3 separate regions of the Homo sapiens genome follow, and regions 2 and 3 are each linked to region 1. Evidence: fine-mapped expression QTL. A gene starts in region 1. Each other region holds a variant in brackets. All regions are shown on one strand. Distances are between the middles of the regions.

Evidence for each region.
Region 2: its variant is fine-mapped to the expression of SLC7A3 in whole blood (TOPMed, PIP 0.93).
Region 3: its variant is fine-mapped to the expression of SLC7A3 in whole blood (TOPMed, PIP above 0.99).

The regions. Positions count from the first base shown.
Region 1 is chrX:70,929,946-70,932,713 of GRCh38, forward strand. It overlaps SLC7A3 (solute carrier family 7 member 3), which reads right to left and starts at 1,151. Exons shown (of 12, transcript NM_032803.6): 1 at 1,032-1,151; 2 at 1-77. The coding sequence starts at 52. RefSeq lists an enhancer at 394-895.
Region 2 is chrX:70,789,783-70,792,550 of GRCh38, forward strand. The region is part of intron 9 of TEX11 (testis expressed 11); the gene reads right to left. Among named protein-coding and RNA genes, the nearest start is that of SNORD3E, 55 kb to the right of the region's middle. The variant T/A (reference allele first, on the strand shown) is at 1,285.
Region 3 is chrX:70,466,696-70,469,463 of GRCh38, forward strand. All of the region lies in intron 9 of DLG3 (discs large MAGUK scaffold protein 3), which reads left to right. Among named protein-coding and RNA genes, the nearest start is that of DLG3-AS1, 12 kb to the left of the region's middle. The variant C/T (reference allele first, on the strand shown) is at 1,600.

The DNA of each region.
Region 1 (2,768 bases):
TACGTCTGCGTACCAGCTTTTGACCAAATCTGCGAAATGCTTGCCACGGCATCCTAGCAGGAATTGAAGAAGATGATCTGGTGAAAAACAAGACAAAAACCCCTCGACAGGGCTCATTATCCCTAAACTCTGAAAGCGAATTACAAGACCCCCTCCACCAAGCAAAGGAGCTATTGGGAAATGAGGACGGGGATATGGAAGGGACAAAGGCAAGTCACTTTACCTCTAACCTCAGTTTCTTCATAAACAAGTAGGAATTACAATACCTTACAAGGTTTTTGGAAGGGCTAATTTCAGAAATGGCACGTGAAAGCCCCCTGAAGTAGAGTGGCTGGCGCCTAGTAAGTGCTCAATCAATATTAGGTCTCTTTCTCTTGCCAGAAACTGATAGGGTTTATCCTAATCTCAACCCAGGAATCTTGAAACCTAATGTGTCAGTTCCTTGGCCTGTGGCTATTTGGGAATTAAACAGAGCTCCACCCAGGGGCTTCCCCCGGGGCTTCAAACAGACACAGCCCCCAGACCCCCCAGAGGGAGAGGGGACCAACCTCGCTGCAGATTAAAAGTGAGCACCGACTCAATTCCATCCCTCCTCACCAAGCCCACACTGCTCAACTAGCGCAGCTGTCGCCCAGGGGAGTAAGCAAATGTTCCCCTACTTCCTCCCAAGCCCTGCTAGGCTGACCTGCAAGCATCAACAGCGAGGCGGGGCTTCGACATCTAAAGATTTGGAGATGCGCCCCCAGAGGGGCCCCAGGGCAGCCCGAGATTGCTCGCACTCTCCTCTCAGCAGAGAGGAAGGGTTCCACCCGATGCCCCCCGACTCAGGTCCCAGATTTTCCTGCCCCCATCTAGAAATGGTTTGGAGCTGGGGTGGAGACGGGAGCCCTAACTCCCGGGGCGGGGGTCTCGCCAGCAACAGGTCACGGCCCCGTTGATGCAACTGCATGCCATGGTTGCCAGAGAATCCTAGGTACGCCCGGACCCTCGCCGTCCCCCCTCCGACACACGTGTGGGTCCCCAACGCTTACCAGAGAGCTGTTGCAAACCTAGGGAGCACAGAGTCTTGGACTGGGCTCGGTGAGGCGGAGTTAAGCCGAGTTGGGTTGGAGCTGCCGAGTTCGGCCGCTCAGGCTTCAAAGCTGCGGCTTGGGGTCGTTGCGCGCCAAGCGCCCCTTATATACACCAGGAGGCGGAGCCGGTAACGTCATGGGATCCCACCCCCAATCCTCCTCGCTACACACAATACACACACACACACACACACACACACACACACACACACACAACACACACACTTCTTGGCTTTGCAAAAGGATTGCGTGGGGCCTGAGACTGCGTCCCATCCTCACTAGCAAGCCTGGCGTGCCGGGGAGCGAGAAAAGGGGGAGGGCAGTCTTTTCCCATTTGTCTCGCTGGTCGTCAGAACAGGACAATAAGAGGCTTCCTGGCCAAAGAACCCATGAGATTTTCCACCTCTGTGCCCTGTTAGGACCAGTGATTCTGGGCAGGAATGGGGAAGGTAGGTGGGGTGTGATGGGGGGGAGTTGGGTGCGTGTGTGTGTGTGTGTGTGTGTGTGTGTGTGTGTGTGTGTCAGGAGTGAAGCGGAACACAGCAGGGGAGTCTCCACCTCACTCTCAGTCTTTCTTCCTTAGCTTTCTTGTCTACACATCTGACCCTGACCCTTCAGCTCTCACGCTCAGCTGTGGGTGTTTCTAATGCAGGCAGCAGGAGAATGGAAGATGATTTCAAGCCACCTGTATACAGATAATTAATCCAGTCTAAATTGATTTATAGGCCCCAATCTCTCTATAATGTGTCTCCAGCTGCCTATAAATATTAAACTATTAAATGTGAAATTCTGACAATACCAACATCTTGGAGGAGGAAGCTTGTTTAGTTCCATTTTATTGATGTGTAAGCTGAGGCTCAGAGGCATGACTTGTTTGACACCACACCATAATTATTGTTGACCACCTTTGATAAAACCTGGCCTGTTGGACTTCAATGCCTGCCTCCCGTAGGCACCATATCTTATTCAAATGAACAAGAAGAGGGATGTGGCCACAAGGAAAGACAAACAGGGAGAGGCATCAGCAGCAGGGTAGGTCCGTTTAGGCTAGGAGATACTAGGAAACAGAAAAGGACCCGAAGAATCTACGAATGATCACATTGGGTCAGATCCATAATCCATCTGACCCAATCAATTCTTACTCATAAGAAAGCACCAAAGGTTGTGAAAGTGTGGTCCCTGCTCCACCAAGACATCTTGGGGACTAAGGATGGACTCAAATATCCTTGCTTCTTTTAATGATCCATGATGAATATATTACCCATGAATCTAAAATCTAAATCCGTTCTGAAAGAATTGGTATTTTCAACCAGCTGCAGCTCCATTTGGCATTCATTAAGTATTTATTGAGCATTTATTGAGCACTATGTGTAGTAGCTGGTACAGCAATGAAGAGACTATGAAGGAAACATAAAATAAAATCCTTGCCCTCCTAGTCCTAATCTAACTAGGGAAAGAAAACACACACTATACAACTGAAACCTTATTACATAGACGTTAGGAGTGCTGTGTTTGGAATTGCACCTAGGTTAAACTCACAGCTCAGCCACTGTGGATTACCTAACATCCCTGAGCCTCAGTTTCTGGACATAATATACATATTTCACAAGGTTGTTGTGATGCTTAGATGAGATTATGAAGTCAAGTCTTCCTGCCTGGCACATGGAAAGTACTCAAGAAAAACTTGATACATAT
Region 2 (2,768 bases), 140 kb before region 1:
TTTACCCCAAATATTTGAAGTCAGTTTGTCAAAGAGACGTCTACACTTCTGGGTTCACTGCAACGCTACTCACAATAGCCAAGTTACACAATCCACCTAAGTGTCCCTCAACAAATAAATGGATTAAAAAATGTAGCATTATATACACAATGGAATACTATTCAGCCTTTAAAAGAATGGAAAAACTGTGATTTGTGACAACATGGATGAACCAGGAAGATATTATGCTAAGTGAAATAAGTCCAGCACGGAGAGTCAAATACCACATGTTTTAAATTGTACCTGGAATCTAAAACAACTGAACTCGTACAAGCACAGAGTAGAATGGTGGTTACAGAGACAGAGCTGTGGAGAGAATGTAGAGATGATGATTAAAAAGTACAAACTTGGATAAGGAACAAGATGGTTCAAGACACAGCTGGGAAGCACCTCTCTCACCAAGAGAAACCAAATATCAAGTAAACCATCACACTTCAAACACATCTTTTGAGAGAAAACACTGAAAGTCAACAGAGAGGCAACACAGACACTGACTTGGAAGAGGCACAGGAAACTGGGAACTCCGCATGGAGTCACCAAGCACCAGGACCAGCTCTCAGCCTTCAACAGGTCCTAAGGAAGGGGTAAATGAAGGAATTATGAGTCAACACACTCCCACCACGGACCTCTGGGATCCTAGCTACAAGAGATTCCACAAACTCCATAGACATTTAAATTGGCAGGGTAAAATGCCAGGAGAGTAGACAGAGGCAGAGCTCAAGCCTGCGCAGAGCCCAGAAGGTTCTGCATGCAAGGCAGCTGCAGTAAAACACGACCCTGATGACTGCTGGGCCAAGAGAGAGGATAGAGCAGAGATGGCTTTCCTGCAGTACTGGAGTGCATCTGATCTGCATGCCCCTCTGTCGGCAACACCTCCCAAGGCTCCTGCCTGGATTCTCCTACAAGAGCAAGCACACAGCATAGCCTCCACTGCCCTGCCTGAGTGCTTTGCCAGTGGCTTGGGTGCACTTCAGCCCCGCTAGGACAGCTAGTGTTCAACTATGAGGGGCCAGAGTACAAAGCTGCAGGCCCAGTCCCAATCCTGCATCGTTTGAGCACACAGGTCAGAAGTTTCAAGAATGGCAAGTTGGATAAAAAACAAGACCCAATCATTTGCTGTCTTTTTTTTATTATTATACTTTAAGTTTTAGGGTACATGTGCACAACATGCAGGTTTGTTACATATGTATACCGTGGCACATATACACCATGGAATACTATGCAGCCATAAAAATGATGAGTTCA[T/A]GTCCTTTGTAGGGACATGGATGAAGCTGGAAACCATCATCTGCTATCTTTAAGAGATGCATCTCACATGTAATGACACCTACAGGCTCAAAGTAAAGTGATGGAGAAAGATCTATCATAAAAACAGAAAAAAAAGCAGGGGTCACTATTCTTATATCAGATAAAACAGACTTTAAACCAACAATAGTCAAAAAGGACAAAGGACATTACATAACAATAAAGGATTCAATTCAACAAGAAGACTTAATTATCCTAAATATATATACACCCAACATTAGAGAACGCTGATTCATAAAACAAGTACTTCTAGACCTATGAATAGCCTCAGTCACACAATAATAAGGGGAACTTCAAGAACCCACTGACAGCGTTAGACAGATCATCAAGGCAGAAAACTTATGAGGAAATTCTGCACTTAAATTCAACACTTGAACAATTGGACCTAATAGATTTCTACAAAATATGTCACTCAGCAACCATGGAACACACATTCTTCTCATCTGCATGCAGAACATACTCTAAGATTGACCACATGTTCGGGCATAAAGCACATCTCAATGAATTCAAACAAACTGAAATCATACCAAGCATACACTCAGACCACAGTGCAATAAAAATAGAAATGAATACCAAAGAAGATCCCTTAAAACCACACAATTACCTGGAAATTAAGCACAACTTGTTACTGAGTGATTTCAGGTAAACAATAAAATTAAGGCAGAAATAAAAAATACTTTGAAATTAATTAAGATACACGACATGCCAAAATCTCTGGGATGGGCCATGCAGTGGCTCACGCCTGTAATCCCAGCACTTTGGGAGGCCGAGGCGGGTGGATCACTTGAGGTCAGGAGTTGAAGACCAGCCTGACCAACATGAAGAAACTCCGTCTCTACCAAAAATGCAAAATTAGCCGGGCATGGTGGCACATGCCTGTAATTCCAGCTACTCGAGAGGCTGAGGCAGGAGAATCACTTGAACCCAGGAGGCAGAGGTTGTGGTGAGCCGAGATTGCGCCATTGCACTCCAGCACGGGCAACAAGAGCAAAACTCCGTCTCAAAAAAAAAAAAAAAATTAGCCAGGCATGGTACACGCCTGTAGTTCCAGCTATGCAGGAGGCTGAGGCAGGAGAATCGCTTTAACCCAGGAGGCAGAGGTTGCAGTGAGCCAAGATGGTCCCACTGCACTCCAGCCTGAGCTACAGGGCAAGGCTCTGTCTCAAAAAAAAAAAAAAAAAAAAAAAAAAAAATATATATATATATATATATATATATATATATATATATATATACACACACAAATATATATCTGGGATGCAGCAAAAGCAGTGTTAAGAGGAAAGTTTATAGCATGAAATGCCTGTATCAAGAAGTTAGAAAGATCTAAAATTAACAATGTAACATCACAACTAGAGGAATTAGAAAAACAAAAACAAACTAACCTCAAAGCTAACAAAAGAAAAAAAAATGACTAAAACCATAGC
Region 3 (2,768 bases), 460 kb before region 1:
TCCCAAAGTGCTGGGATTACAGGTGTGAGGCACTGCGCCCAGCCTGTTTTTTAAATTTTATCTTGATGTACAGATGTTTCATATGTTTTTATGTGGTCAAATCTATTAATGTTTTGTATATTTTGCCTGTGCCCAGAGGTTTAGAAGGGCCTTGCCTACCCGAGGGCAAATAAATACTGTCCGAGTTTTATTCTAGTTATTTAATATTTTTGTTTTTGTATTTGTTATTTTTTTAGAGACAGGGTCTGGCTTTGTCACCCAGGCTGGAGTGCAGTGGCATGATCATAGATCACTGGAACCTTAAACTCCTAGGCTCATGTGATCCTCCTGCCTCAGCTTCCCAAGTAGCTAAGGACCACAGGCACATGCTACCAAGCATGGCTAATTTTTGTGGTTTTTTTGTAGAGATGGGGTCTCACTGTGTTGCCCAGGCTGCTCTCTCAAATTCCTGGCCTCAAGTGATTTTCCTGCCTTGGCATCTCAAAGCACTGGGATTACAGCCAAGAGCCACTGTGCCTGGCCTGTTTTTGTGTTTAAAACCTTAACTTGCCTGGAGTTGATTTGTGATGTAAAGTAGGGTACTAACTTAATTTCTTCCAAATGTTAATGAATTACCTCAGTACCATTTGTTAGATAATCCATCATTTCTCTGCATTTTTGAAGTACCACCTTTATTATAAATAAAATTCTTTTATACACACACACACACGATTTGGACTTTAATATTTTACTTTTGGATTATCAGTTACTGAAAAATGACCATAGGTGTTTTGACAACTTAGATGAGAAGAGTATTTCTCCAGGTCCCATTTTCTGAGTTTCTTCCACAGAAACTTGACCTAAAGGAGATTCAGTTGAGTTTGTGATCCTGTGGGTGTGACAACTGTGAAGAACATTTGAATCGAGACTCTCCATTGACCTGGTAAAACATAGAAATTGGTTACATTAACTCAAGTTGTCAAACTTCATCATAAAATGTGTGTGTTTTAGTTACTGTGTTATAGTATCTCTGTTAAGTGGAAAAGATTCTTCTTATCAAGTGTACCCACCACCTGGAGAACAGGGAAAAGGTACAAATCTGTCTTTATTCTCATGTTTTTTGGATGAGGTATTTTGTTTTGGTGGTCTTTATGTATACTTTGGCTTATGGGTTGCAAGAGCCAAAGACTCTGTTAATCTTTCATTTGAATATGCTATATGAAATTGCTTTAAGATATAGAGAAGGCCCTATTGAGGCTTTTACCCTGAGCTGCTGGGTGATCCGGAATAGGTGAGAAGGCAAGATCCTGTGAATACTTTTTCTTAGTTTGATGTGAGATCAAGGCATTTTTCATTCCAGTCATTTTAGACCAGGTAGATTTTTTTTTGTTTGTTTGTTTCATTTTTGTTTATGAGATGGAGTCTCACTCTGTCGCCCAGGCTGGAGTGCAGCGGCGCGATCTCGGCTCACTGCAACCTCTGCCTCCTGAGTTCAAGCGATTCTTGTGCTTCAGCCTCCTGAGTAGCTGGGATTACAGGTGCCCGCCACCATGCCCAACTAATTTTTGTATTTCTAGTAGAGATGGGTTTTCACCATGTTGGCCAGACTGGTCTCAAACT[C/T]CTGACCTCCGGTGATCCGCCCGCTTCGGCCTCCCAAAGTGCTGGGATTACAGGAGTGAGCCACGCGGCACCTGGCCTAGTATAGCATTTTCACTCAGTAGCTCTTCTTGCATCCTCACTAAGCTCTTTGGGGGACAAAAACATCCAGTCAATAGGGATAAACTGGAAATTTTTATGGCATGCTGATCCGGCATGTTTTGTTTTCTGTTTTCTTCTCAGTATCCTTCAGGATGGTATCCAGAACCCTGGCTATGTGTGTGTATGGCCGAGGAAGCATACACAGTGACAGTGCAGGGACCAGAATAAGGACACCCAGCTTTCTGGGTTAGTCATAGTTCCAAAATTATTCTAAAAGTAGAACTGAAATTATTTTTCCTCAAGCAATATTTGCCCATTGAAGCCTATTTGCCATATTTCTGCCCTCTCACATAGCCTTGAGAAATATTTTTGGTAATTTATGTTTATTGATTTGGTATTGTTTTTACCCAAAGAGTTTAGAATTATTTGCAGATTTGAAGATTTCCCTCTCTAAATTATATTTAAAAATTAAATCAGACTAGTTCTAACTTTGATTCCGTATGGACCTCATTGATTTGGTCATAAAATCATAATGATGTCATAATTAGAAGGGATCTTAGAAATTATCTAGTTTTAGAGGTGTTAGACAACACCTCTAAACAATGGACCCATCATTAGAAACTAACCCAAGTAATAGGCTTCATTATTATTATTTTCAGACAAGGTGTTACTCTGACACCCAGGCTGGAGTGCAGTGGTGTGATCATAGCTCCCTGTAGCCTTGAACCCCTGGGCTCAAGCGATCCTCCTGCTTCAGCCTCCTGAGTAGTTGGGACTACAGGCGTACACCACCACGCCTGACTAATTCTCTTATTTTTTTTGCAAAGACAGGGTCTCAATATGTTGTGCAGGTTGGCCTCAAAATCCTGGCCTCAAGCAATCCTCACACCTTGGCCTCCCAAAATGTTATGATTACAAGTGTGAGCCACTGCATCTGGCCCCATAACTATTTTATAAAGACAAGTTTGTGATTCCTAGAAATGTTCTGATATTTGGCAATTCATATACTTACTCCATACTAACAAGTATCTTCTTAATGGGCTTATTTTACTTTCACCTCCATCCATTTCTTTCTTTTTTTTTTTTTTAAG